Linked DNA regions of Homo sapiens. The protein of the gene in region 2 interacts with the protein of the main gene of each other region in a pairwise test. Each region holds a gene or a part of one and is shown on either strand. Other genes may lie near its edges.

Region 1 (3,922 bases), about 53 Mb from region 2:
TGAGATGGGTCAGTTTGGCCAACATTTCCAATTCTACATTTCAGTGTTCAGCATATTAACATGGTTTTAGGTTGTTTTTGTGTTTCCAACTGCATATATCTCATCATTCATGAGCTGCTCAATTAAGAAAGTCTGAGCCACCCCTAAAGATGGCAACATGAAATAAAGCCATCTTTGAAGCACCCAAAATCACAAACAGGGCCTTGCCCAAGGTTAAGTCATGATTCTGCAGGTAAACTATGCACTGCCACAGTATACGGGGACCCCAAACTGGCTGGTGTAAAAGTCATCCTTCTATAATAGAAATGGAGTCCCAATGCTCTAAATCCTATACAAATCACTTGGGGAATCTCTTTAAAATGAAGATTCTGATTTAGTAGGTCTGGAGTGCGGGCTGAGATTCTGCATTTGTAGAATGTGTTTAGTGAAATATTTTGATGCTACCATTCTAAAGACCAATGATAAATACACTGAAACTTTATTAAAAGGTCAGGGTATATAGAAAACAAAAGGCATGTTTGCAAAATTATTTATTTACATCTTAAGCTCACATTAAAATCTTTCTAGGATAGAATGGCTAAGATGAAATATACAAAGCTGATATAAACACAGAACTCATTAATCTTTATCTGAACAGAAACATAGAGATGGCTTTAGATAATCTGTTTTTCCTTCACAAACCAATGTTCCCTTAAGTCATGCCATGATAATGTCTCCCCATTAAGAACTTAACTTGTATTGCCCAAAAAAGCTGAGAAGCAAAAAGCTAACTTTGATTTGTTAAACAGCTATTCATATGCCACAAAACCAAAACTATTTTACAGTGCTGAGAGGTCCAGATAGGTCCAAACATGATGATTTTTAAATGAGTGCTTTGGTTAATTAGGCTTTGACTTGGTTTTTGGCATTACTTGTATAATTATATCATTCCAATGAGTCACTACAGGTAATCCATTCAAAACATGACTTGCTTAATACTATCACAAAGCACTTAGCCTTGCCTTGACTGGAAATACCTTTAAGATGCTGACAATAGCAACAATTTCTCCTTTCCTTCACTCAGCAAAAGAAATCACATAAATCACAAAATAAAAAATTCATTTCTCACATGTTAAAAAAGCAAAGTCTGCCATAAACCCTTAGAGAAGAAACAGTTTCTCATAATATCTGCCCTGGGTAATAGTGCATTATTAAAATACTAGACCTGCAAGATCTCTTCCTATGCCTTGGAAGCCTATGACTTCATGATCTATTCATGAAAAATATGCCGAAGGCTAAATATGCAATGCATTGAAATTTCTGGGAAGAATTCACATTTAAAACAGTTTAAAAAATCTGGATTTAGTAAGAGTTTTAGAAAAATAAATAAAACACTGTGGTTCTACTTCTCCCCTTCTACTCTCCCTTCACAAATCTAAGCTTAAGTGCAGGCTTCTAAAAAGCAGAAGAGAGTACAATAGGATGAGAGAGGTGGGTTTTACTATCCACATTTTCCTTTTCTTAGTGTAACGTATTATCTCAAAGGCAAACTTGATTCCCTTTTCTTGAAACGAAGATCCCATCTTCTGAGACGATCTTAAATAATTGTTCTTAAATCAAAAAGTTTGAAAATCAGTGCTTTTAATAAGCAACTAAATGCCTATAAAATATATAACTTAATATTTTGAAGAATGCTATTGTAAAGTTTGAAACAAGATCTAAACATTTTTAAGTTTACATTTAATGTCTTTAAAAGGTCTTTTAAAAGCTATAAGTTCTATTATAAATTGCCAACTAAATTATAAATTGCCACTCACCTTCTCAAAAATTGTTGCACAAATGCATACATTTAAGGTATCTGTATGGTATTTCTCATATTGATCTTTTTCCCAATCTCATAAGTGGGATAAAATGAGAAATTAAGCACCTAGATGTTGGTTAAATTCATTTGAGCAGCATTTTGATTTTGAATAGAGATTCTAAATGTAGTCTAAACTTTCCAGAAAGTCATATTTACATTCATTGTACATTTTATATACACATAAATACAAATTTATAGGAAATAAACAAATTAACCTACACCTCTCATACTGTAAAAGACAAAAATTAAAAATACAACAACCGTGATCACATGCTAAGGCCAGCTATCTGGGAAATATTATTGTTCAGTTCCAACAGCAATAACTTTGAGTAACTTGACACATATCACATAAATACACTACAGGTACTTAGTTTATTTTTGTCCTTAGCCTAGGCCAATCCACAGTTTTAAGTGAAACAATTTTCTGTGAAAGCTAATGCCATACAAGTAGTCAAACACTTACTAGAAATGTCTGCACCACAGAAGAAAGATCTAAAGAAGGCATAATAGCAGATGTCAAATATTTTGAAGTATAATTATAGGGAAGGATTAAAATTAACTCTTTATCCAGGGGGAACTCAGGGCTTTCTGACAAGAGCTGTGCAAAAATTCAAAGGTTTGCTTCATCAGTGTGAACTCCCAGTCCCACAAAAAACAGTGCCTTGTCAAGGCTCTTGTAGTGAGGCCTCCTGGGTTGACCGGTGAGACTCATAAGCCCCCAAGAAACCCTGAAGTTCCCTGATGGAAATTATTTTGTTGAGATTGAGTTTCTGACATGATGACTTCTTGGGCAGTTTGCTTTCTCTTGTGTTCCTGCCCATAAAGCAGTGCTTGATTTTGCTGTTCACCTTTTGTAAATAGATGGGCTTGGCCCTCCAGGAATATATCAAAGCGAACTTTTCGGATTATTGTCTCATGAAAACAAGCAGGTTGTTGTGATGAACTTGGAAAGTGCCCTGCACCTAGTAAGTCTTCCACCAACTGCTGGCGGAAGTGGCTAGCAGAGATTATAATTGGAAGAAAAAAAAGGTTACCGAATCTAAAATGTTGACTGTTCTATAAAGTTTTGATCTTGAGCATGAGTGGAAAGTCCTATTTGGCACTCCTTGACCTCAGGTGGCATGCCAATGATTATCACAGTAAGAAATTCTTAGAATCAGATTTGAGGTATAGAAGGAATAAGAAACACAGAAAATTTTGACCTATATTAAATAAACTCTTCTATAAGTCAGGTTTTTAACCCTAAAATCAAGGCCTTTTTTCCCCCAGAATATTAAATTTACTAAAAACGTAGAAATAAAAATTCTAGTATGGCTGTAAATATATAAGACAAATAAATGAGGTCACATGGTTTATACATTTCAAATTCTTAGAGAGGCCCTACAGTAGTTCAGGAAGACAGTTTACAGTATTGTTCCCTGAGTTCTTGAGGCAACCTCAAGTAAATTTATGAACTCTAAGATTTGAGAGACAGAAAACCTACATGGTCTGCTTATCCCTCTTTTCTAAGAGTAGCTATTTACTCCAAAGTGGTTTGTTCAGTGCTTTCCCTATAGTTCAACTGCTTTAATTATGTGGCTTTATCCGTTTCTTAGAAGACCAGCTCCCCAAATGAAACTTTTAAGAGAAAGAAGAAAAGGCTGTTTAAAGCAAGTAAGCTTTTAACATTAGTTAAGAGTGCAATTGAGTAAATCAGTTCTAAATCTATAATACAAGAAGAGTGGTAATACTGTCACAGGTGTTAGAAGGTTAGAATTCTACAGATTTGGGTTTGTCTGATGTCAGCGGTTAATAACCACTTAATAAGCCCTGCCTCCTAACCAATTATACTCTACTAATTGTCTACCAATTCAAAGAACCAAAACTATTATAATGACTTTCCAGTATTTAAATATGTAAGAACACCTAAATTTGGTTTTAAAATAAAGTTTATAACAACCATTCTCATCAGATCTCAAACTTCAAATATCTAGATTTTACACATAGATTTGTAATAATTAAAAAAAAAACCAAAACCACAAAAACTCATTCAAAACTGGTATTTTTTAGGTTCTTGAATTTTCATATGTCCACATTCTTGGT
Region 2 (3,822 bases):
TAGTAGAGATAGGGTTTCACTATATTGGCCAGGCTGTCCTCCAACTCCTGACCTCAGGTGATCTGCCTGCCTCGGCCTCCCTAAGGGCTGGGATTACAGGCATGAGCCACTGCGCCCAGCCACATCTTTTAAATCAAAACATTTAGTTGGCCCCTAACCTAGAGGAGATGTGAGGGAGGATTTTGGTAAGCCTTTTGAAATAGCATGCTGTCAACTAAACTGTGTTCTCCCCAAATTCCTATGTTAAAGCCCTAACCCCCAGTGTAATGGTATTTAGAGATGAAACCTTTGGGAGGTGATCAGGATAAGATGAGCTCGAAAGTGTGGGGCCCTCATGATGGGATTAGTGCCCTCATAAAAAGAGACACCAGAGAGCTTACTCCCTCTCTCTCTGTACCATATGAGAACACAAAGAGATGGCAGCAGTCTGCAAGCCAGAAAGAAGGCCCTCCCCAGAACCGGACCCTGCTGGTACCCTGATCTCGGACTTCCAGAACTATGAGAAAATAAATGTTAAGCCATCCAGCCCGTGGTATTTGTTACAGTAGCCCAAGCAGATGAAGACAGAGGGGAAATGCAGGTTTGCTGGTGCTACGCAAAAAACTGTTTCAGTAGTCTTAGGATGGGGATTCGAACGAGACACACAAATGTGCACCTCTCTAGTATTCTGATTATGTACATGAACATGTCTGGCATCATACAGGTATTTAAAAAACGTTAGTTCCAAATGCAATGTGGAACACTGGACTAGGTCCTAGCACAGAAAAGAGATACTAGTGGAAGGCCTGGTGACATCCAACCAAGTCTGTGTTTCAGTTAACAGTAAAGTGTTGATGTTAATATCTTAGTTCTGACCACTGTTCTATGATTATGGACGATCAGGGGAGACTGGGTTATGGGCACATCAATTTTCTTCTCTAACTTTTCAACTTTTCAATCAATTTAAAATTATTCCATTGGAAACTTGAGAGGAGGGTAAAATTTTTAAAATTAAAAATAAGTAAAATAAAATAATTCCAAAATTTAGAAATTTTCTTTAAAAAGAAGTTAACTGAAGCCGGTCGTGGTGGCTCACGCCTGTAATCCCAGCACTTTGGGAGGCCGAGGCGGGGGGATGACCTGAGGTCAGGAGTGGCCAACATGGTGAAACCCCATCTCTACTTAAAATACAAAAATTAGCCAGTCGTGGCGGTACGCACCTGTAATCCCAGCTACTTGGAAGGCTGAGAAGGGAGAATCGCTTGAACCCAGGAGGTGGAGGCTGCAGTGAGCCAAGATCGCGCCATTGCACTCCAGCCTGGGGTACAAAAGCGAGACTTCGTCTCAAAAAAAAAGTAAAAAAAAAAATAAAAAGAAGTTAACTGGCTGGGCGCAGTGGCTCACACCTGTAATCCCAGCACTTTGGGAGGCCGAGGCAGGCAGATCACAAGGTCAGGAGATCAAGACCATCCTGGCTAACGCAATGAAACCCTATCTCTACTAAAAATACAAAAAATTGGCCAGGCGTGGTGGCACACACCTGTAGTCCCAGCTACTCGGGAGGCTGAGGCAGGAGAATCGCTGGAGCCCGGGAGGTGGAGGTTGCAGTGAGCCAAGATCGTGCCACTGCACTCCAGCCTGGGTGACAGAGTGAGACTCCATCTCAAAAAAAAAAAAAAAAAAAGTTAACTGAATCAGAAATAAATGTTGAATGAAAAATAACTGAGACTAGGATAAACATCCAAATAGAGCCAACAGAGAAAGAAGGCTGGGCATGGTGGCTCCCACCTGGAATACCAGCACTTTGGGAGGCTGAGGTGGGCAGATCACTTGAGGCCAGGAGTTCAAGACCAGCCTGGCCAAAACAGTGAAACCTCATCTCTACTAAAAAAAAAAAAAAAAAAAAAAAAAACTTAGCTGGGCATGGTGTCACACACCTGTAATCCCAGCTACTCCAGAGGCTGAGGCAGGAGAATCACATGAACCCGGGAGATGGAGGTTGCAGTAAGCCAAGATTGTGCCATTGCACTCCAGCCTGAGTGACAGAGCGAGACTCCTTGTAAAAAAAAGAAGAAGAAGAAAACCAAGATCGTTTCTTCCCCTGCAGATACAGAAAGATAAGCTGGCAAGGGAAGCCAAGGGGAGGATGAGAGAGGCGGCAAGAGAGCCAGGTGGTGTCCAGAGGGCCAGGGGAGTTTCAAAGAGAATGGCAATGCCAAGAGCACCCACCCTAAGGGGCAGAGAGGTTGCCCAGAGTCCAAATTCAGACGGCCAGATTGGACCACTGCTAGACCAGCAGCTGATGGCATGGAAGCCAAGCTACAGAGGGGCAAGGAAGCTCCAGAGCCTAAGCTGGGGCAGACCTCGGGACAGACCTCGGGGCAGACCTTGTTGAAGGTAATGGTGTCTCTCTGGATTGTGGCTTATATTTACAAAACATTTTTGCATGTTCTAATGTTCTAATATGTTCTAATATGAAAAGAATATGGCAAACAGAACCTCTATGACTTTCCCAGTGACTCCATTTTAAACATTAGCACCACATTTGCTACAGAGCCACTCACGGATGGGGAAATGTCGTCATCATATTTTTTTAGCTGATTCATAAACTCCAGATGCTTCTTCTCCTCCTCCAGTTGAGCCACAGACTGCTCACTCTTCTGCAGTTTCTGCTGCGTGTTGGCCAGTTCATCCCGTAGCCACTGATTCTCCTGGCACAGACGACGAACCTGCGCACGCAGTTTCTGCTTCTCGGACTCCACAGCATTCAGGTGATTTGACAAAGCCATCATAACCTGAGCAGACAGAAACGTGTGCAGCACTGTGGCACGTTGTCCAGCAAGAGTCCCTCCCACCCGTGCGAACATTCTGTGGCTGGGGCTGTAGCTTACACTCGCAGATATTTTCTCCAAAGTACATATAAGTACAATCTGCCATTTACTTCTCTTTTCCCCTTCAGCCACAGACTACAAAGCAGGGTATGATAAAGAATATCACACGCTCAGAATGCCTACAAAAAAATACTTATTTTTTTGAAGAGCATGCCAAATGAACTAGCAATGAAAACACAGCTACCCTTCTGATGAAACTGTATTATTTTACTTTCTATCAAGATGGGCCCAACATAATTTTTTATAGACCCTTTCCCATGTGTAAGACCTCGTGTACACACATGCATGTCTGCGCACAGAGTGCATGTTGGTGAAGGGCTGCAAGTGGGGGTCAGAGAACAGTGCACATACAAATCTTCCTTGATGTTCCAAGGTGAGAGAAGACATCTCTGTAGCTACCACCAAGAGTAAGAATGCACTGGTGCACTCATAAGCTTATGTTTATGTCATAAAATCCAGGGGCCACTCCAGGGCTCTGCCTACAGAGTGCTCACTGGTTTCTGGAACAGACCAGCGTGAGGCTGTGGCAAGTTCCTAGGAGCATAAGAGCACAAACAGCTAGGAGCTGGCTGGCAGCAATCTGTTCTCTCTTTAGAACATACATCTGCCCATCCCTCTCATAACATAATAACCAGGTTATTATCCTCCTAGGTTTAAAACCTGAAACTCCAGAAGGTGGGACCTTTTCTTCCTTCTTTTTTTAAAACTCTTATCTGCGACACCAAAAAAGCAAGTTTAAATTCATGTCACCTGTTCTCAAGGTAACAGAACTTGAGAAATAATACGTTCACAATATCCAAACAGAGCTACAGTTCTGCAACTCAAGGCTGTAACATGGTTAGGATGAAGACTCTAAAATCAGGGTGTGGGCAGTCACTTCCTCTATGAAAGCAGAAACCGCTGGCCAGCAGCCCCTCTTCTGCTCTATTCACTCACTAAACTAGAGAATGCT

Evidence for each region.
Region 1: the proteins of KLC1 (region 2) and NIN interact in a two-hybrid assay, tested with the Homo sapiens proteins (one large-scale study listed by BioGRID).

What each region holds. Positions count from the first base shown.
Region 1 is NC_000014.9:50,719,304-50,723,225, forward strand, and holds the end of NIN (ninein), read right to left. Parts: 3' UTR 460-3,922; downstream 1-459. UniProt on the Homo sapiens protein: Centrosomal protein required in the positioning and anchorage of the microtubule minus-end in epithelial cells. May also act as a centrosome maturation factor.
Region 2 is NC_000014.9:103,656,498-103,660,319, reverse strand, and holds part of KLC1 (kinesin light chain 1), read right to left. Parts: intron 2,775-3,822; coding exon 2,544-2,774; intron 1-2,543. UniProt on the Homo sapiens protein: Kinesin is a microtubule-associated force-producing protein that may play a role in organelle transport. The light chain may function in coupling of cargo to the heavy chain or in the modulation of its ATPase activity.